Linked DNA regions of Homo sapiens. The protein of the gene in region 6 purifies or fractionates together with the protein of the main gene of each other region. This does not show direct contact. Each region holds a gene or a part of one and is shown on either strand. Other genes may lie near its edges. The genes, in order: MYH14, OLA1, LETM1, PCCA, MYH1 and SGK1.

The links.
Region 1: the proteins of SGK1 (region 6) and MYH14 purify together in Homo sapiens (affinity purification with mass spectrometry, with the first as the bait; one large-scale study listed by BioGRID). This does not show direct contact.
Region 2: the proteins of SGK1 (region 6) and OLA1 purify together in Homo sapiens (co-immunoprecipitation; one large-scale study listed by IntAct). This does not show direct contact.
Region 3: the proteins of SGK1 (region 6) and LETM1 purify together in Homo sapiens (co-immunoprecipitation; one large-scale study listed by IntAct). This does not show direct contact.
Region 4: the proteins of SGK1 (region 6) and PCCA purify together in Homo sapiens (affinity purification with mass spectrometry, with the first as the bait; one large-scale study listed by BioGRID). This does not show direct contact.
Region 5: the proteins of SGK1 (region 6) and MYH1 purify together in Homo sapiens (co-immunoprecipitation; one large-scale study listed by IntAct). This does not show direct contact.

The regions. Positions count from the first base shown.
Region 1 is NC_000019.10:50,304,622-50,307,830, forward strand, and holds part of MYH14 (myosin-14), read left to right. Parts: intron 1-2,427; coding exon 2,428-2,536; intron 2,537-3,209. UniProt on the Homo sapiens protein: Cellular myosin that appears to play a role in cytokinesis, cell shape, and specialized functions such as secretion and capping.
Region 2 is NC_000002.12:174,077,533-174,081,032, reverse strand, and holds part of OLA1 (obg-like ATPase 1), read left to right. Parts: intron 1-1,942; coding exon 1,943-2,065; intron 2,066-3,500. UniProt on the Homo sapiens protein: Hydrolyzes ATP, and can also hydrolyze GTP with lower efficiency. Has lower affinity for GTP.
Region 3 is NC_000004.12:1,811,157-1,814,656, forward strand, and holds the end of LETM1 (mitochondrial proton/calcium exchanger protein precursor), read right to left. Parts: intron 3,418-3,500; coding exon 3,268-3,417; 3' UTR 323-3,267; downstream 1-322. UniProt on the Homo sapiens protein: Plays an important role in maintenance of mitochondrial morphology and in mediating either calcium or potassium/proton antiport. Mediates proton-dependent calcium efflux from mitochondrion.
Region 4 is NC_000013.11:100,095,593-100,099,092, reverse strand, and holds part of PCCA (propionyl-CoA carboxylase alpha chain, mitochondrial isoform a precursor), read right to left. Parts: intron 1-3,500. UniProt on the Homo sapiens protein: This is one of the 2 subunits of the biotin-dependent propionyl-CoA carboxylase (PCC), a mitochondrial enzyme involved in the catabolism of odd chain fatty acids, branched-chain amino acids isoleucine, threonine, methionine, and valine and other metabolites.
Region 5 is NC_000017.11:10,508,543-10,512,042, reverse strand, and holds part of MYH1 (myosin-1), read left to right. Parts: intron 1-54; coding exon 55-204; intron 205-2,387; coding exon 2,388-2,558; intron 2,559-3,370; coding exon 3,371-3,500. UniProt on the Homo sapiens protein: Required for normal hearing. It plays a role in cochlear amplification of auditory stimuli, likely through the positive regulation of prestin (SLC26A5) activity and outer hair cell (OHC) electromotility.
Region 6 is NC_000006.12:134,308,113-134,311,612, reverse strand, and holds part of SGK1 (serine/threonine-protein kinase Sgk1), read left to right. Parts: intron 1-3,500. UniProt on the Homo sapiens protein: Serine/threonine-protein kinase which is involved in the regulation of a wide variety of ion channels, membrane transporters, cellular enzymes, transcription factors, neuronal excitability, cell growth, proliferation, survival, migration and apoptosis.

The DNA.
Region 1 (3,209 bases), on a different chromosome or scaffold from region 6:
ATGTGCTGGTCACTGAAAAAATTAGACGTACCATGGAAGTATGTCTAATTACCTCCATGGTATGTCTAATACCATGTCTGGTGGGATTCCCCAAGGTGAAAGACTCATGAGCTGGACATGGCAATGAAGGCCTATGAACTAGAAGGGTTGAAGGGACACAGATGAAGAAGAAGCTGGAATACCCTGAGATGTAGTGGTTTGGGAAGGGTATCTAGAGGAGGAGGCACTTGAGCTGGAGCTGACAAGAATGGGATTTCCAGGGCTTAGAGTCCCAAGTCAGTTGGCAGCTTTGTGGGAAAGTCTGGGAGACATCAGGGCATTTGGAGGAGGAGTGTGGTTGGTTCTGAGAGTCTGGGACCCAGGAGAGGGATCAGGGAGACAGGGAGGTAAATGAGGCTTGAAGCACACAGAGCCTTGAATACTGGGCCACGGAACTCTGTTCTGTGGGCAGTGGGGAGCCCTGGGGGCAATGGGGAGCCATGGGAAGGCTGTGGGCTGGGGAGGGACACGGCCAGCTCTAGGTATAGAAAGATCTCTCTGGGGCTAAGGTGGGAATGGATCAGAGGAGGGAGACTGGAAGCTGGGAGGTTTGGAAGGAGTCTGGAATGATGGTCCAAGCAGAACAAGATGAGGCCTGAGCTGGGGCTGGGGCTGTGAAGATGAACAAGAGAGGATGAAGAAGAGAAAGCAGGGGGCAGAAGGAATGAAGCGGAGGCTATGGGTGGTGGCAGGGGAAGAAGACACTGTTTGGAGCTAAGGCCTGGTGACTGAGGGAATATTGGCTTTTTGGAGGAAGATGCTAAATTCGTTGTGGAACTTGATGAGAGTGAAAGGCCTCAGGGACAGGCAGAAGGAAACGGCCCCAGAGGTGCATGAGACAAGTGGTTCTCAGTCCACAGGGTCACCCAGGGGCCCCAGGGCTTATGGGAACTGTAGCTTGAGGTCTATGGGGACCCCTGCTCCATTATACAAATGAGGAAACTGAGGTTCCGAGGGAGTAGATGAGTTGCTTAAAGTCACCCTGCACCAGGTGCAGTGGCTCATGCCTGTAATCCCCACACTTTGGGAGGCTGAGGCAGGAGGATCACTTGAACCCAGGAGTTCAAGACCAGCCTGGGCAACATGGCGAGACCCCATCTCTACAAAAATAAAAATTAAAAATTAGCCCAGCATGATGGCACACACCTGTAGTCCTAGCTACTCGGGACACTGAGGTGGGAGGATCGCTTGAGCCCAGGACATTGAGGCTGCAGTGAGCCATGATCACACCATTGCACTCCTGTCTGGGCAACAGAGCAAGGCCCTTTCTCAGAAGAATAATAAAGTCACCCTGGGAGCAAAGAATGACCAGATGATTCTTAGCTGAAGAAGTCTCAGCCGGGCGCAGTGGCTCACGCCTGTAATCCCAGCACTTTGGGAGGCCGAGGCGGGCGGATCATCTGAGGTTGGGAGTTCGAGACCAGCCTGACCAACATGGAGAAACCCTGTCTCTACTAAAAATACAAAATTAGCCAGGTGTGGTGGCACATGCCTGTAATCCCAGCTGCTCGGGAGGCTGAGGCAGGAACAATTGCTTGAACCCAGGATGCAGAGGTTGCGGTGAGCTGGAGATCGTGCCTTTGCACTCCAGCCTGGGCAACAAGAGTGAAACTCTGTCTCAAAAAAAAAGAAGTCTCTCTCCTTCATCCTTTTCCACTGCTTAGTGCCTTCCCACTCGCCCCCAGCCCTGTGCCTTCCTCTCAGCACATCTGGGGCTGTTGTATCCAGGGTGGCTGTCAAGCAATCCCGATTGCTAGAGGTCCCATCACATGGACTTCACCCCAGATGTGATGGTCCATGCAGGAGAGGACAGGTGTAAGGGCAGAAAGAGTGTTCCCTCCCGCTCTGAAGATTCAAGTCTGCTGAAATAAACTGACAATAAATAGATTAACAAAATAAAAGGCTACAAATATATTAATGTGCATGAACACAGGAGCCATGCAAAATATAAGACTTTTTATACAGGGTCAGATGGTTGAGGCTTAAGTATCCTCTTTATAGGGGAGAGAGACAAAAAGGATGTATTCAATTGTGAGAGATAGTAAATGATTTTCAGGGGAAAATGAATGGGCCCAAAGAGTAAACTGTAGTTTGTAAATGATCCTCTTTGGAAACTGAATAGGACCAAACATATACTTATTATAACTCACAACATCATAGGAAACAGGTATGTGAGGTGTCCTAGTAGAAGCCAAGGACATGGATGCCGAGGAGAAGGCAGCCTGCATGTCAGTGTTTGGCCTCAGTAAACTGTGGGAACCACTTAGGGGTTAGGAAAGAGGGAAGAAGCCAATCCAAGAACAAGGTGACAGCCACTGCATGAGTCTATGGGGACAAAATCCTAGGTTGAGCCCCTCTACTGAGACTCCTCCTCATCCCTCTCTTCAGAGAGCGCATCCTCTCTGGAAAGCTGGTGCGCAGAGCTGAGAAGCGGCTTAAAGAGGTGGTGCTCCAGGTGGAGGAGGAGCGGAGGGTGGCTGACCAGCTCCGGGACCAGGTAAGCAGCTGGCATCATTAGGGAGCAGTGGAGAGTGTGACCACTGGCTGAGAAATTGCACAGGCTGTCTCCAGAGGCAATGAGCTCCCATCACAAGAAGCAATGTGCAGGTGCTGGACTGGAACTGAATGCAGATACCATCTTGGCACTTGGCACATCAGCAGAGGGTTGGAATCAGTGAGTTTGCAATTCATAAATGCTGGCATCTAGAAAGGGCCCTGTAGGGAGCTGAGGAAGCCAGGGCAAGGGAAGAAGTTAAACCCTACCCAGAAGCTAGACCAGGACTAGCTTCTATGTACCAGGCACTGTGCTAAAGACATAACATTTACTGTGTTTAATTCTTATCAGAATGGTAGAAGGAAGGTGCTATTATTTACCCTCTTATTTATGTGAGGAAACTGAGGTACAGAAAGGTGAAGTAACTTGCTCAAAATTATTTAGCTGGTAAGAGGTGGGGTCAGTATTCAAACCTCAGCACTCTAGCCCCAGAGTGTGTGTTCTTGATTACTTACTGAGCAGTTACTGTGTCATAAGCAACTGCTTTTTAAAAAATACATATTTGCATTTCCTCACTAGTCCCATTTCACAGATGAAGAAACTGAAACTTTAAGAGGATATATTTTGCATCAGAGTCACAGAGATAGAGCCTGGATCAGATCCCAGGTCTGTCTGG
Region 2 (3,500 bases), on a different chromosome or scaffold from region 6:
TGTCCAGGATAACTTTAATTATTTGTGAGCTGCTGAACAGTGAAAGTGGAGCGGCATTGATTGAGGCAGGTAACAATTGATTCTGCCTATTACATAGTCTGAATTTCTTCATCCTGTAGAATCTGTCTACCCTCCTCCTGTGGTCAGAGATAAGACGCACCAGTATTGTGCTTGCTTAATCTGTGTGACTGGGTTTGTCTGCAGTGAAATTGATGTTGCTTTTCATTTTGTATTCGCTAAGTTTGTTTGGGTTGCGGGTGGTTCTTTCCTCCTTTGCTTTGCTCGGATTACATTTTCAGCAATAAAAGCAATATGACATCATTATGCTCTTCATAGATACACAGTTGGGCTCAAAAAGCTAAACTCAACGTGTAATAATTCATGCCTTTTTAAATTTGAATTCATAGAAGTAATGTTTATTTTCAGTGTTATATGTTCAGTCTTACTTCTTTAAAAATGTGATATGTATTTTAAAAATTGATGTATACTGAATACAACAGAGAGAATGACTAATTTATTCCCAGAGGACAATAGAAACTGAACTGTAATGGTTTGCTTTTAAATTTAAATATATTGTAACATAGTAGTTACTATTGAAAAATATTTTGAAATATATGTGATCCTAAATAGTATGTTACAGAATATAAAAATAATACCAGAACTTTTAGAAATAGTGTCTTATTCAGTCTTTTATTATGCTTTTTAAATATATGCTACACGATAAATTTTAGTGGTGCTTTGATTCCTGTTTTCAGTGACTACTGTAATTTATTGTTACATGTATTTTGATTTAATATGGATAGAAACATGGAGGCAGTTAACATAATGTTAAATGCCTTGTGTGAATGTGAGATTTACTTTTCTTTTATCTCCTCTCCCCTTTGTAAAAAAATGTTTGATTGACTTCTAACCAAGGTCCTTTTATATAGATTTTAAAAATAATGTCAAAGCAAATCCAAGTTGGTAAACAAATTGCCAGGATTTATTTTTACTATATATTTTAAAGATGTATTTTAAAGCCTTAAAACTTTCTAACTTAAGTATGTGGAGGTAGGAAAGATAGCATGTTCTGGGCTTGAAAATGTGAAAGCTGGTTTATCTTAAGACTGATTGTAAGTATCCATGATTTAATGTGCTAAGATATTTAGTCAGGTAAGCATCAGTGAGTAGCTATATTAACCCAATACATCTTTTATTGTAAAAACTGTGCTTTCTAGTGTCAGACTCCTTATCACTTTAACATGCTTTATTAAGCAGCCTTTAGGTCACCGTTATTTCTCAAATTTCTTTCCATGGTTATGTGTGTGTGGAATATATATCCTTGTAATATAACATATGGGTTAATTATAAGACATTTCTCTCCCTATATCAACTTGAATTTCCTTCATGATGGTTAGAGGCAGGGAATATTATGCAAAATGTTCAAAAATTTTATTATCGAAATTTTTTGAGAGTTTCACAATTATTTGCTGAATGTAGATTTCCAATATGATTTGTTGGAAATGCCTTTAAAATGTCCCTTTGTATATTGATTTTTATATGTTCTTTAGATGAGCTGAAATTTTGAGAGCTTTTTATCTTTTTAAAACCTTTGATAATTCAGCTTGAAAGTTACTTAAAAATCTATTTTTTTCCACTGTGAAGAATAGAAAATCGAAATGAAACCTACACCAAAACCAGACCACTGCTTCTAAATCAATAAAACAGTGGATGACTGTTAGGAAAAACAAAGCCACGCTTCTTTAATATCTACTGATCTATGCTAAATCTGCTGCACAGATACTACCCAGTGTTGAAAATGTACTAATTATATACCTGACATCTTAACAGATATTAAACTAAGTTCTAGTTGAGCCCAACTGCAGATCAGAGAAAAGAAACTCTGTGCTTACAATCAGTCATCTTAAATGCAATTAGTTTTCTCTGGTCTTTCTTTTCAAAGAAAGGGACTAAGGCTCCTCAGGCTGCAGGAAAGATTCACACAGATTTTGAAAAGGGATTCATTATGGCTGAAGTAATGAAATACGAAGATTTTAAAGAGGAAGGTTCTGAAAATGCAGTCAAGGTAAAGAATTGTTTTTATTTTTGTATTTCACAATGTTTCCACTGATGCGAAGTTAGTCATGATAAAAATGAATGATAATTATCTTTTAAACTGAGTGTAGTCTAAAATAAAGTAATAAGATGATCAGCGTTTAGTGTTACTATCAACTGACTTAAGAGCTATAGATGTTTACATACTTTTAGATCATTTTAAAAATGTGTGAATTGTCAGTAGTTTTGTGGAGGTTTTTTTCTATAATTGAAAATAAAATAAATTAGGTTTAAGTAATTGTAAATAATTTCGAAGAATTTGTTCACTCATGGCCAATGAAAAATTGTACTTATTACATTTGAATAGCTGAAGTATAATATATATGCTTATAATTACTTCAAGAATAGAGATAGAAAGTTAGTTAAATAAAAGCTGTTCTTTCTAAAACTTCATGGTTTTACTTGTTTGTTGTTTAAAGATACTTGGGGATTTGATTTGCTTTCTCAACACTAGAGGGCAGGTCCAAAATTGTGCTTTATTTTAGCTAATAAGGATAATTTGGTTTGCAGACACTAATAGTGAAGCAGTTTTATACATGAGTAGTAGATGACTTGTTAAATGTAAATTCTGTTGCAAAATTAATTTTGTTTGATTTATTAGATGTTACTTAGAGAAATCTAGCAATCTCTAATATAGACAGATTAGCTGGTTAAACTGACATTGTAGGAAGGTTCTTTAATTTAATTTAATATTTGAAGACTACTATAGTAAATGTTATAGAATTTAAAGAAGATTCTTGTGTTTACTATTTCATAAGTTGAAAGGAATACAAAAAAGTTTATTTCAGGTTTACTTTATTTTCACTGGTATCATTGGAAAGGTCATACCGAACAGCAGGACTTTAATAGAACTGTTGGAACACCAGGAAGAGGAGGGGGAAAATCTTGGTATAATTGGTTCAATGTTGAATGAGAACCATTTTGTTTTTTTGAAAGAGTGGAAGGAATAACAGTTTACAAGTAAACACAGTTGTTAATTTTTTGATGGTGGCATCTGTATAGATATAGGTAGGTGTGCAAAAATACTGAGATTGAACTTTGTCAGGAATACTAATTAGACGAACAAAAATCTCAGATTATTTGTCAACATGCTACATCATGTTGGCATATCTATTTTTCATAAGGAAGATAAAAATGAGGATGTTTTCTATTACTAGAATTCAGAGATCAGATGCTTCTTTTTTTATACTCTTAAAATGGTAAGCCTGTTTACCAATCCTTAGTAGATCTATGTTGTAATAAACTTGATAGATGAATTGTAAATATTTCCTTTAACAATTGAGAGAAACTTTATAATATCCAATAAAATAATATTTCCTGCTTGTAAGACTATTTACCACTAACTGGCAGCTTTTATACTATAAATTAGAAAAGGTTGACTCTGACATTTTCACCTAGGATACCAT
Region 3 (3,500 bases), on a different chromosome or scaffold from region 6:
GCATGACCAGGTGGCAGGGCCACTGGCCTGGAGAACGTCCCACACTGTTCCATGAGCAGCTCACGCTGTCACAGGACCTGGGGACGTGGGTCTCCTGACCCTGCAGGCCCATCCTGCAGAGCAGGAAGCGTGAAGCCAAGGGCTGAACCCATGGAGGGCGGCCCAGCACTCAAACCCCCAGGGATGGTGAGGCTCCTTCTGGAACTGGCCTCACAGCCACACGCGCCCCAAGGCCCAGCCCCTGCAGCCACGTGGACAGCTCTGCCGGCTTCCACTCGCTCCTGTGTGCCCAACGGTTCAGAAATATTATTACTCTGCACTGTTACAGGAACACAGATTTGATGTTTTAATAAAAATACGATTTCTACAAAAGGTGCTTAACACGGCCCAGGACGGGCTGTCCGGTGGAGTCAGCCGTAGGACCCCTGAAGGATTTACAAAGACAGAGCCGGCTCACCAGCACACTCCTGCCAGCACCGGGACCCACTGCGAACAAAGACAGAGCCGGCTCCCCAGCACGCTCCTGCTAGCCCTGGGACCCACTGTGAGCCACTGCGGGGTGTCCTTCATTTAAAAAAAGTCTGGACTGTGACACTGCAGAAGGAGTCTGAAAGCCCAATTCCTGAATCCCTGCGTTAGAACTGAGAGTTCAGGCCGGGCGCGGTGGCTCATGCCTGTAATCCCAGCACTTTGGGAGGCTGAGGCGGGTGGATCACCTGAGGTCAGGAGTTGAAGACCAGCCTGACCAACATGATGAAACCCCATCTCTAATAAAAACTTGCCCGTAATCCCAGCACTTTGGGAGGCCGAGGTGAGTAGATCACGAAGTCAGGAGATCGAGACCATCCTGGCTAACACGGTAAAACACTGTCTCTAATAAAAATACAAAAAAATTAGCCAGGTGTGGTGGCGGGTGCTTGTAGTCCTGGCTACTCGGGAGGCTGAGGCAGGAGAATGGCGTGAACCCAGGAAGCGGAGCTGGCAGTGAGCCGAGATCACGCCATTGCACTCCAGCCTGGGAGACAGAGCAAGACTCTGTCTCAAAAAAAAAAAAAAAAATTAGCTGGGCATGGTGGCGCATGCCTGTAATCCCAATTACTCAGGAGGCTGAGGCAGAAGAATCGCTTGAACCCGGGAGGTGGAGCTTGCAGTGAGCCGAGATCGCACCACTGCACTCCAGCCTGGGTGACAGAGCGAGACTCTGTATCAAAAAAAAAAAAAAAAAAAAAAAAAAGTGAGTGCTTAGCTGGAGTGAGGAGGAAACACTGAATTCCTAAATCAGGAATTCGTTTCATTTTCACCAGGCGCAGATATCCTAGCTCCTGAAAAAGGCCAAGACCGAGGGTCTGGCCCTGGGCAGGTGTAAGAAAGGACTGTTTTAAGAAGCTTATTACACAAAGCTCATATTTCTGGATCCACCACTGCTTACATTTGCACCCAGACACCACTTTTAGGTGCAAGAAGAAAGGTCAGGACATAGAGAAAAATGCACACAGAACGATGAGGGAGAATGACGAGGGAGAATGACGAGGGAGCAAGCCTGCATCAGAGCACGGCTGATGTCACGGAAGCCACCAAAGGCACCCACCAGAGCCTTCCCCACCTGCAAAGCCCCTGCAGCACCCGGAGGGCAAGCTGGCTTTTGGAGGCCATGCGGAGTCCAGGGCAGAGGGGACAGTGGGATGGGCTGCCTGTTGCAGTGGCTGTTCACGTCAACAGTGCTCAGCCAAGGCAGTGAGGACGAGGATGAGAGCCGGGGCAGCTGACTGGGCCCGCGATGCCGCTCACAGGAGAGGCGTCTGCACACACCTGGCAACTGCAAGACTTGTTCTCAAGGGTAAGTACACTTGGACAAACGAACACCAGGCTACTTACACAGGGTGAGAGAATTCATAAATATTAGTTAAGGATCTAAAACAAACTTCTCAAATAACTGAAAGCTGAAAGCCTCTGGAAGCCAACTGTCCCTGCACAAAGGTTTACAATTGAGAAATATCTCCTGTTCCTATTTTGTCAAGTTTCTTTAATGGCTGAACAGAAAGAAGCTTCAAGTAATGGAGAAGGCATTGTCTGAGTGCAGCTGCTTTCCTGGACGCCTGTGCCGTTCCTGTCTTCCAAATCCTATGCTTGGAGGCCCCTGGAGGTACATTTTTGCCAGGAACCAACCTGACCTTAAAAAGATGAGTGTGACACAGCCGGCTGGGCAGGAGGATGGAGGTGCCACAGGACACCACCTGCCCACGCCCTGGCCAGCCTGGCCATGCTGCCGAGTGCGGGGAGGCCACCCCACCCAGAGGGCACAGGGCAAACCCTAAGCACGGGGGTATTGCCCTTGAAGCCCCAGGGGATGCCCTGTGCCGGATCCTCATGCCTCATTGACTAGCCTGCTTGCTGAAGGAGCCCAGGGGCCTGAGCCTGCAACACTGCAAGGGGTGAGAAGGGCATGCTGCTGTGGGCGCACTGGACTCAAACCTCACATTAGAAGCTACAAAGAACCCCAAATGCGCTTCAGAGCCCCACCAACCCCCAAGCCAGGCTCATCCCTGACACAGTGAATCCACTGCAGCCCCCGTGGGAAACTCTGTGCCAATTGACTGCTTAAAGAACTGGGGGAAATAGAAAGCCGAGAAAGAGCTCCGATACACAAGGGAAACCGCACGTGAGAACCAGCACTCCCAGCAGGGAGACGTCACTCTCCAGAGGCCACAGAGATGGCAGACACCTCTGTCTCCACAATGACCCACATCCAACTGAAAGTGTGCAGGAAGACAGGTCTATTGACACTGAAATCTAGAAATCAAGGTCCACAGGCGAATGGAGGCATCTTCAGCCCTGAGGAGGCCAGGCTGTGTCTCCTGACGCCCCTGAGGGTGGGCACAGCAGCCAGCTCTGTGTGGGCGGAGTCCACGTGGTCCTCATTCTCTTCCCTGGGGACAGGGCAGCACAGTCAGATGCTGAGACTGAGGCCACACACATGGGGGCGCCTTCCTGCCTTGGCCCAGCCCAGCTGCCTCTGGAGCCAGGAGGCCGTGGCAGCCACACCACAGTGTGGATCCAGACACGATTCTGTGGAGGGGTTCCGGGATTCCAGACAGACTGAATCTCCGTGGAATGATGAAAATTAAAATTTACTTGATTATGGAAGTCTCTGATTTATTCCAGCCAAAATATTAGATGAGCCACTGAGAATCACCACAAAGCAATCGCCCTCACGGCCCTTGCCAGGGTGACGGCACAGCAGGAGGACAGGTGCCCAGGCCAGTGGTTCTAGCTCTTCACCTCTGCGACCTCCTTCTCTGCCTTCTCTTTGGCCTTCTCCTTCTCCTCCACCTTCTCCTCTTTTTCCAGTGTTGCTACAATCTCAGCCACCTGGCTGGTGGAGATGTGAACATCTTCTTTGTCCACCAGCTCAATCACCTACACACGTGGGAAAGGGAGAGGCTCAGGTGGCTGCGCCCTACAGCACAGTGAGGCAGAGGCGGGGCCAGCGCCGTCAGTCG
Region 4 (3,500 bases), on a different chromosome or scaffold from region 6:
CTATCCTCAAAACTGGGTTAATGGAGCTATAAAATGATCTCACCAAGGTCAAAGTAAACATTAGTTTACTTCATCTTGCTTCATCTCTAAAATTCCAGGTGAAGGTCTTATCCATGTATTATGACACGGTATTTCATCATGCATTGTAACAGAGCCCATGCCCTTCTCTGAAGACACTTAATTAGGTCTGGCTTTTTCCTGGAAGCACAGCTTTTCTTTCAAATAGACTATTTAGTCTTCAGGATCTTAGAGACCATTCCAATCTTCAGTGTCTGCCAAAAGCCAAGTTGAACACCTAATATTTGAGAGAGATGTTCAAGACTCAAGATTCTCTGGGCTCTGCCTCTGTACTAAGCTCAAGCACCAGGAAACTATACATGTCAACTCTAGAGCTCCATCATCCCACCCTTGACTCTTCCGCCAGGCCATTCTTCCCCATCCCGCTGTAGCAGATGTTGTCAGTGGCCACTCAGATCCTCTCTAACTGCTGTGTTGACAACTAACGGCTCACACCTGCACCCTCATCTCGACCATGTTCCTCAACTATACAGCTCTCCATCAAGCCTGAGAGCTCCCCCGACCCTGCCTGGCCAAGGGCTGACTAACACTGCATTCAAAAGGCCAGTCCCAGCACCTCAAGGTGGGACTTGATTAGTAGCACAATCTGTGCCCTAGAGCTGTTCCATCCAATATGGCAGCCACGAGCCACATTCAGATGTGCTCTAAGAGTAAACTACACACTGGATTTTGAAAACTTAGTACCCAGAAAATGTAAAAGACCTCATTAGTGAATTTTTACATTTACATATTCAAATAATACTTTGAATATTTGAATATATTAAGTAAAATATATTAATTTCACCTTATTTTACTTTTTTTGTTTTTTTAAGAGATGGGGGTCTCACTATGTTTGCCCAGGCTGGACTGCAGTGACTACTCACAGGCACAATTATAGCCCATGGCAGCCTCTAACTCCTAGGCTTAAATGATCTTCCCACCTCAGCCTCCTAAGTAGCTGAGACTACACATCCCTGCCACCACACCTAGCTTCATTGTACTTTTTTTTTTTGAGACAGGATCTCACTATGTTGCCCAGACTGAAGTGTAGTGATAGGATCATAGCTCACTGCAGCCTTGAACTCCTGCATTCAAGCAATCCTCCCACCTCAGCCTCCTGAATAGCTGGGACTATGGATGCATGTCACCATGCCCCACTAATTTTTTTATTTTTTGTAGAGACTGGGCGGCTGGGGGGTTCTCACTATTTTCCCCAGGCTGGTCTTGAACTGCTGGCCTCAAGTGATCCTCCCACCTTGGCCTCTTTGCTTTACTTTGTTAACATAAGTATTCGAAGATTTGTGTTTGTTTGTTTTTTGAGACGGAGTCTCACTCTGTCGCCAGGCTGGAGTGCAGTGGTGCCATCTTGGCTCACTGCAACCTCTGCCTCCCAGGTTCAAGCAATTCTCCCGTCTCAGCCTCCCGAGTAGCTGGGATTACAGGCATGTGCCACCATGCCTGGCTAATTTTGTATTTTTAGTAGAGATGGGGTTTCTTCATGTTGGTCAGGCTGGTCTCGAACTCCCGACCTCAGGTGATCCACCTGCCTCGGCCTCCCAAAGTGCTGGGATTACAGGTGTGAGCCACTGCACCCGGACCATTCTTTTATTTTTTAATTGAGATGTAATTCACATACCATAAAATTCACCCTTTTAAAAAAGTATACAACTCCGTGGTTTTTAGTATATCCACAAGGCATGGAACCATGATGGCTACTGATTCCAGGACATTTTTTATCACCCCAAAAAGACAACCCTTAACTATTCGCAGTCACTCCCATCCCCTCTCCTCCAGGCCCTGGGCAACCACTAATCTACTTTCTGTCTTCATGGATCAGTCTATTCTGGAGACTGCATATAAACACAAAATCACACAATAGCGACCTTGTGTGTCTACCCTTCAAAAGTCACTCTTAATTCCTTCCTTTCCCTGTTTGTACATACCTTACAGATACTGTAGGTTCAGGTCCAATTAATTATTGTTCAAAACAGTTATTGCTCAAAAATGCTAACAATCATCTGATCCTTCACCATGTTAGCCAGAATGGTCTCAATCTCTTGACCTTGTGATCCACTCGCCTCGGCCTCCCAAAGTACTGGGATTACAGGTGTGAACCACTGCGCCCGGCCTCACTTCTTTTCTTAAACCCCATGAACCAACCTCTGCTTCCAAGTTTTCTTCTGCAGCATCCTCACCTCTCTCAGCCTTCGCAGAACTGAAGCGAGGACCTTGCGCTGGATTAGGCTATGGCTTAAGGAAATGTTGTGGCTGGTTTGATCTTCTATCCAAACCACTAAAGCTTTCGCCATATCAGCAATAAAGCTGTTTCACTTTTTTTAATCAGTTGTGCGCTCACTGGAGTAGCACTTCTAATTTCCTTCCAGAACTTTTCCTTTGCATTTACAATTTGGCACAAGAGGCCCAACTTTCAGTCTATCTTGGCTTTTGACAGGCCTTCCTCACTAAGCTTAATGATTTCTAGTTTTTGATTCAAAGTGAGAGATGTGTGACTCTTCCTTTCACTAGAACGCTTAGAAGATTATTAATTGGCCTAATTTCAATATTGTTGTATCTCAGAGAATTAGGGAAGCCTGAGGAGAGGGAGAGACATAGGGGAATAACTGCTTGGAGAAGTCAAAACTCACACATTTATCAATTATGTTTCTCCAACTTATATGGGCGTGGTTCACGGCACCCCAAAATATTTACAATAAGAATATCGAAGATCACTGATCACAGATCACCATAACAGACATAGTAATAATGAAAAAATTATCAAAATGTTTCACAGAGACACCAAGTAAGTATGTGCTATTGGAAAGATGACACCAATACAGTTGCTCAAAGCAGGGTTGCCACAAACCCTCAATCTGTAAAAACAACAAAAAAAAAGCAGTATCTGCAGGGTCAATAAAGCCAAGATATGAGGTACATCTGTATCTGCCTTCAAACCCCACAGCAAGATACTGGCTCTAGCTCCAAAATACATTCCAAGTCTGACCAGTTCTCAGCAACTCCAGTGCCCTAGCACAAGTTACCATCATCTCTAGCTTGGTCTTCTACAACAGCTTCCTGATGGGTCTCTCTGTTTCCACTCTTCCCACCCCAGTCCCCAATCCTACTCCCACCCCTACTAAGACATTCGCTACGTACTAGTCACAAACGTCTTTTCCAAACATAAATTCAATGTGCTTAAATGCCTCCAACTGGACTCTCATTACTAAATTCCAAATACAAGCCCCTGATGACTCTGTCCCGCCTACCCACTCCTCCTCCCTCATCTCCTAAGATCACCCCCTCATTCAGTTCACTCCAACCACAGCAGCCACATTCATCCCTTAATTATGCCAAATGCAATCTCCCCTCAGAGCTTTTGCCCTGGCACTCCTTGGTCTGCAATGCTAGGCCCCCATATAGTCACATGGCTGGCTGGCTCAGTTTCC
Region 5 (3,500 bases), on a different chromosome or scaffold from region 6:
TCCCAGGCCTTCATGACATGTCTTTAATAACACCAACAAACTTTATCTGTGAAGGTGTACAATGCAGTGGGTGCTCTGGCCAAAGCTGTCTACGATAAGATGTTCTTGTGGATGGTCACCCGCATCAACCAGCAGCTGGACACCAAGCAGCCCAGGCAGTACTTCATTGGGGTCTTGGACATTGCTGGCTTTGAGATCTTTGATGTGAGTTAGCAGAAAAATTGTACCAAAAAAGTTTCCAACAAGCAAGCTTGTTGCTGCAGTCATATAGCATGCCTGTAGTCACTTATGGAAAGGGTCTATGAAAAATAGCTGCACTTTAAACTTAACTGACACATGAAAGAGCACCAAAAGACCGTGAAAGGAAGTGAACTTTGGAATGAGACAGACCTGGATTCAAACTCCTGCTCTGCCAATTACTAGCTGTGTAATAATGAGAATTGTACCTGATTGATCATTGGGCAAATTCAACTAGGACCTGTAGGTAAAGCACTTAACATTCCAGATCACAGATTCACTTCTGAGATCTGTCTGCTAGTTTCAAGATTTCTGAATTTTCAGCCCTTAACACAGTCCCCAAGCATGCAGGCAGCACTCAGTAAACAGTAAGATACTGAGGGCAACAATAGAATCAAAGATAGCAGTGGAGAAGACAAAGTCTTTAAAAGAAAGACTTTGAGATTCTGTTTGCCGAGAAATGAAATGTGTTTAATTATTAGGATAACCTCTGCAATACCCAGGTATTGAGTATAGAAATGGCATCGTAAATAAACTCAAATTTGTCTGCCTAAGGAAGAATACCTGCTACACAGCTTAGGAAATAGGGCTACTGCAGTCCTCCACTTGACAGCAGTATCTCGGATGTGTCTCATTTAGAGGTCCCAATTCTAAACTTTTATCTGTGTACGGACTGATTGAAACTGGATGAAATTTTAGAAACGGAAGCACTTCCAGACATTTCCAAGCCAACGTGGAAAGAAAGGAATAATCTGTCATCAAGCAGGAACAGAAAAAGCAATCCACACTTTTTAAAATAAGAGAACTAATGACAGGGTACTTGCAATCATTTTGAGCTGCTTCTTTTTTTTTTTTTGAAGTAACAGCTTTATCGAGATATAATTAACATATCATACAATTCACCTATTTAAAGTATAAAATTCAATGGTTTTTAGTATATTCACAGGTACATGCTATCATCATAACAATTTCAGAACATTTTCATCATCCCAACAGGAAATTCTATTTTGTCCTCCCCCTAGGCCACAGAAACCCCTAATCTACTTTCTGTCTCTGGTTTTGGCTGTTCTGGACATGTCTTATAATGGAATCGGATAATATGTGGTCTTTGTGACTGGCTTCTGGCACTTCGCATATGCTTGCCAGATTCATCCCCCTCATAGAATTCCTTTGACTTTTGTGTATGGTGATAATGCCCTTAAACAAGGGCATCCTCAATTGTGTTTCTATGTAGGTGTCCCGAATAATAAAGCAGGGCAGGTCTACTCAAGTTCTAGGAGTAGTTACAAACACTGGCTCTGGCATCAAAATGTTGGGGTTCCTGCCATGACCCTTACTACCATGGTCTTACACAAGTTACTTAGCCTCCCTAATAGTGTTTCCTCACCCATGAAATGAGCAAATGATACCACCTACAAAGGTAGCTGTGAGGATTAAATGCAGTAACTTATACAAGGCACTCAGCATAGTGTCTACTGTAGAGTAAATGTTCACCAAATATTAGCTGTTGAATTTTTATTATTAAGGACAACATACAGACCATAATGGCTCAGATCTAGCAAATTTAGCTAGTTTACAACATAATCATAATCATTAAGAAACCTCTGACTAACAAAAACAAATACTATAAAAACCAAACAACTTTTAAAAAAAAAACTTTTAAGTTCAGGGGTCCATGTGAAGGTTTGCGACATAGGTAAGCTGTGTCGCCCACGTATGAAGCCTAGTACCCATAAGTTATTTTTTCTGATCCCCTCCCTCCTCCCACTCTCCACCCTCCAATAGGCCCCAGTGTGTGCTGTTTCCCTCTATGTGTCCATGTGTTCTCATCATTTAGCTCCCACTTATATGTGAGAACATACAGTATTTGGTTTTCTGTTCCTGCGTTAGTTTGCTAAGAATAATGGCCTCCAGCTCCAAACAACTTTTTTTTATTGCATAGGAAAGCATCATTCAGAGCTTGTTGACAGGTGTTGAAGAGACAATTTTAACAAGTATGCTAACAGCAGCAAAAACTTCATTGTGTAGGTATAGGTAGGACAAAACGATACCATCCTAAGAGGGCAATTTGGCTAACTAAAAAAACACCCCTTTCAAAGAGAAGATTTCATTATAAATTGAATGCTAATTTGTATTTTCAACTCATTTAGTTCAACAGCCTGGAGCAGCTGTGCATCAACTTCACCAATGAGAAACTGCAACAGTTTTTCAACCACCACATGTTCGTGCTGGAGCAGGAGGAGTACAAGAAGGAAGGCATTGAGTGGACGTTCATTGACTTTGGGATGGACCTGGCTGCCTGCATCGAGCTCATCGAGAAGGTTGGCTTGCTTTTTGCAGACCACAGATCATACTGCTGTACAGTATTTAAAAGAAAATCATAAAATCTTGATATAGGCAATGGCTAAATATTTCTACTTGTGAAAAACATGAGGAGAATTCCTTATTTTGCCAACTCTGAAGTAGATATTCTGGTAAAAGGAGATTAAATATTTTCTATAGAGTCCAGAACACAACACTTACCCACAGTTTGCAATACAAAGTCTTACATTTAAAGTCATCTTTCCTTACAAAAAGTGCACTGACTAGAATATTTTTTACTTACTGTTTTTTGTCATCCTAAAGTCATTATTACTGCATTCAAAGTATGAATTTCTACTACTGTACGTTAAAGCAGAGGCTTTTAAAATCCAGTGTGCGAAAGACCCACCAAGAATACTTGGTACAATTGCAGGTTTCCCTTGTCTCACCCCTAGAAATATTTTCTGGTAAGTGTAGGATGAAACATCGGAATCCTCATTTTGAGCAAGTGATTCTGATGCAGCTAATTCGCAAGTCACACTTGGAGAAATATTGCTCTCAGGTCTTTGGGGTAAAGACACAAACTCCACAGGAGCACAGCCTTCATCTGTCTTACTCTGTCATATCCCAGAGCCTGATACAGCACGTGGCTCCTGATCAGCACCCAATAAATATTTGTGAAGTTAATGACTTCTGACCAAAGGAACGAGTTTTCGTTAACTCTGTAGAATTAAAGGATGAATTTACTCAGATGGGATAATTATTAATGTTAAATGTTATTTCTATAAGCAGACAGAATTCAAGTGGCATTTATTTCTTTTCATTCTTCCAGCCTATGGGCATCTTCTCCATCCTGGAAGAGGAGTGCATGTTCCCCAAGGCGACAGACACCTCCTTCAAGAACAAGCTGTATGAACAACATCTTGGAAAATCCAATAACTTCCAGAAGCCCAAGCCTGCCA
Region 6 (3,500 bases):
GTGGCACCATCTCATCTCACTGCAACCTCTGGCTCCTAGGTTCAAGCAATTCTCCTGCCTCAGCCTCCTGAGTAGCAGGGATTACAGGTGTGCACCACCATGCACAGCTAATTTTTTTGTATTTTTTTTTTTAGTAGAGACAGGGTTTCACCATGTTGGCCAGGCTGGTTTCCAACTCCTGACCTCAGGTGATCCACAAGCCTTGGCCTCCCAAAGTGCTGGGATTACAAGCATGAGCCACCACAACTGGCTGGAAGGTCTTTAAGGACAGAAAACCAGTTACCTTGTTCACTGTATCCCCTACTTGTCAAAACATATTTGTTGAATAAAAGAATGCATAAAATAAAAGAACAAATCCTTCTATTACTTGCCCCTAAGTCATTGCCCTCTTCTCCTTCCTCCTCCGTCTTCCTTTAAACAGGCTTTGGTGGCTCAGAAATCTAATGCATTTTATTTCTCTCTATGTTTAGATATGGATTAGATATAAATTAAGACTGAAATGTAACCTAAATCTGGCTCAAAGACAAGCTGTCACTTCCCCTTCAGAGCTGGTGGGTACTTAGGGAAGCTTGACCTCAGCTTATTTGCTGATCCAATGCCCATAACACACCTTCTCTTCTATGATACTTTTCTTGTCAGGCCAAACAAGACAGACGTAGCAGTGATTCACTAATCTCCTTTTATTTTGCATTAATATGAATTACTAACTTCAGTAATATATAGTAGGCTGGGCACAGTGGCTCACACCTTTAATCCCAGCATTTTGGGAGGCCAAGGCAGGCAGATCACCTGAGGTCAGGAGTTTGAGGCCAGCCTGGCCAACATGGTGAAATCCCGTCTCTACTAAAAATACAAAAATTAGCTGGGAGTGGTGGTGGGCACCTGTAATCCCAGCTTCTCAGGAGGCCTAGGCAGGAGAGTCACTTGAACCTGGGAGGCGGAGGTGGCAGTGAGCCAAGATCACGCCATTGTACTCCAGGCTGGATAACACAGTGAGACAGCATCTCAAAAAACAAACAAACAAACAAAAACTATATAGTATCTGCATTATGTATCCTCCCAACTAGAATCCTAAAAATGTCTTTCAATTATTACTTATCCTCACTTTTCAGCATGGTCTTAGGAGCCACAGAGTGTGAGTAAGACGGATGCCTTTGGCACTTTGACCACTAAGTCTTAGAGAGTTTGGATGAGGGAGTTCAGCAGTCTAGGTTTGGCAGTGCTGGGGAATTAGTCTCAGTACTGCAGAATGTGGATGATGAGCCATTTTCGTTAGATAGATATTTTGCCTCCCCAGCAGCTCTCAAGAAAATCCTGAGATAGGCTCTTAGCTACAGTGCTTGGGAGGGATTTTGAATGGAAAGTGTAGCTGAGTTCCTTGAAATTCTGCACCATTTTTTAAAGGGCTGGTGCTGAAATGCGGGTGCCATATGTAACACTGGAGTAAGAGATATTCTGAGCTCACCCATATTTTATGATCTGTAAGTGCTTAACAAGGTAAAGCAAAACCAAAATGAGGGGGCAGGAGTGAGGAACGTGGGGGGTGGAGCCATCAAAATGCATGTTGGAGATTTCCGAATATGAAAGCATAAAGGCAGGAACAGTAATGGGAATTGGATCAATAGAAAAGTTTAATTAGTAATTTAGGTCAAGCTAAAGATAGTTCGCTAGAGCAAATATTGTAGAAGCATATTTTTAAAGTGTGATTTTTTTTTACATACTAGTTAATTTTTTTTAGAAATAAGTCCAAAAATAAAGGTAAATATCAACATTCCTAACATTGGCAGAAAAGACTCCTGACTTATGAGTGGGATGCTGTTTCCTGCCTGCTAAGGAAAGCTAGGATTCCTAGCTTGTCAGCTTGTTTGAGCGTGAAATCATTGGCTCCTCACCAACCTGGGGATGAAGATTTTTATCCATTCTATGGGGCTCAAGAAAGTTCAGCTCGCAGGGTAAAAAGAGTCTTCGAAGAGCTTTAACTGAAGGGATACGCAGTGTCTCTATAGAGATCCACATCCTCTGTAATGGGAAAGCAGGTGGTTCTGGACCTCACTCTCAGTGAATCCTTCTGGCCCAGAAATGAGGACAGCAGCAGTGACCTACCCTGGTCCTTGGTCTAAGAGCAGGCTTACCCAGCAAGTGGCCAGGTTTCTCTGGCAAACTGCACAGTGATGCTGGCAAATTTATAAAAGACCATGTGGGAAAGTGGAGGAGAAGGAGGTGGAGGAGGTGAAGGAGGTGCAGGAGGAGGAGGACAGGAAAAGCAGACAGTAAGGCAAGTTCGGTGCTGCGTTGGCCTCCTCCTGCAGCTGCCATGGCATGTGGAGAAAGGATTATTATTATAGTTTGTTTACTCTCACATCTATTTCTCTGCAGCATTCTGAAATGACATTGTAAGTATTTACAACAAAGGGAAATGAAAATCAAAGATGTAACTAGAGCAGTAGAGGAATCTTCTATTTGGTAGTTCGAGGTGCCAAAATATTACTCTAATTGCTTTCTAGAGCCTGCTGTGACGTTTTTCGGAGAAGAATTCACTTAGCTACTTCTGTAACATTAGGGTAACCTTGGCCTCTTTTTCCCTCCTAGGTCAGGGCATTCACCCAAAACGCCATTTGCTTCGGGAAATGACTGGTCATGTGGTTCTTCCACTTTCTCTCTCCTGTCTCTCTCTCTTTCTCTCTCTCTGTTGTCTCTGGAGGATAAGCTCACAGCAAGGCAAAAGAGAAAAGCATGAAGTGAAATATTCCTAGGCTTGCCGGGCACGGTAGCAAACGCCTGTAATCCTAGCACTTTGGAAGGCTGAGGCGGGTGGATCACCTGAGGTCAGGAGTTTGAGACCAGCCTGGCCAACACGGTGAAATCTTGTCTCTACTAAAAATACAAAAATTAGCAGGGTGTGGTGGCGTGCACCTGTAATCCCAGCTACTCAGGAGGCTGAGGCAGGAGGATCACTTGAACCCGGGGGGTGGAGGTTGCAGTGAGCTGAGAGGGCACCACTTCACGCCAGGCTGGGTGACAGAGAGAGACTCTGTCTCAAAAAAAAGAGAAGAAACATTCCTAGGATTGTGCCCATAGAAAACAAAGGATTCTCGTTCTAACCCAGTGGCTTAAGGAACATCTTGCTATCTCTGAGTTTGTTAGAGTGACATCAGCCAGTTTGAAAGACCTTGGTAGCTCAAAGATTTTAGTCTCTAGAAATAGCAAGGTGAAAAAAGAAAAGTCCCCCAAATTGTTAAAACATATTTAGACTCAAGTCCCTGTAGGACAAAAATTAAAATATGCCAGAGGGGAAAAATGAAAGTTAATAGTTTGAGAATTAAAAATAAATCGGAATATGTATTTATAATGTTTATTACTCAGAAATGTGATCTTTCCCATAGAATGATCTTTCCGAAAGCAGCTGAATTTTCTTTGAACTCTGAATCTTTCTGGGCCAGTATTTATTTAGGTTGTACTGTAAAAAAAATTACAGGAAAAAAACGATGAGTACATAGCTT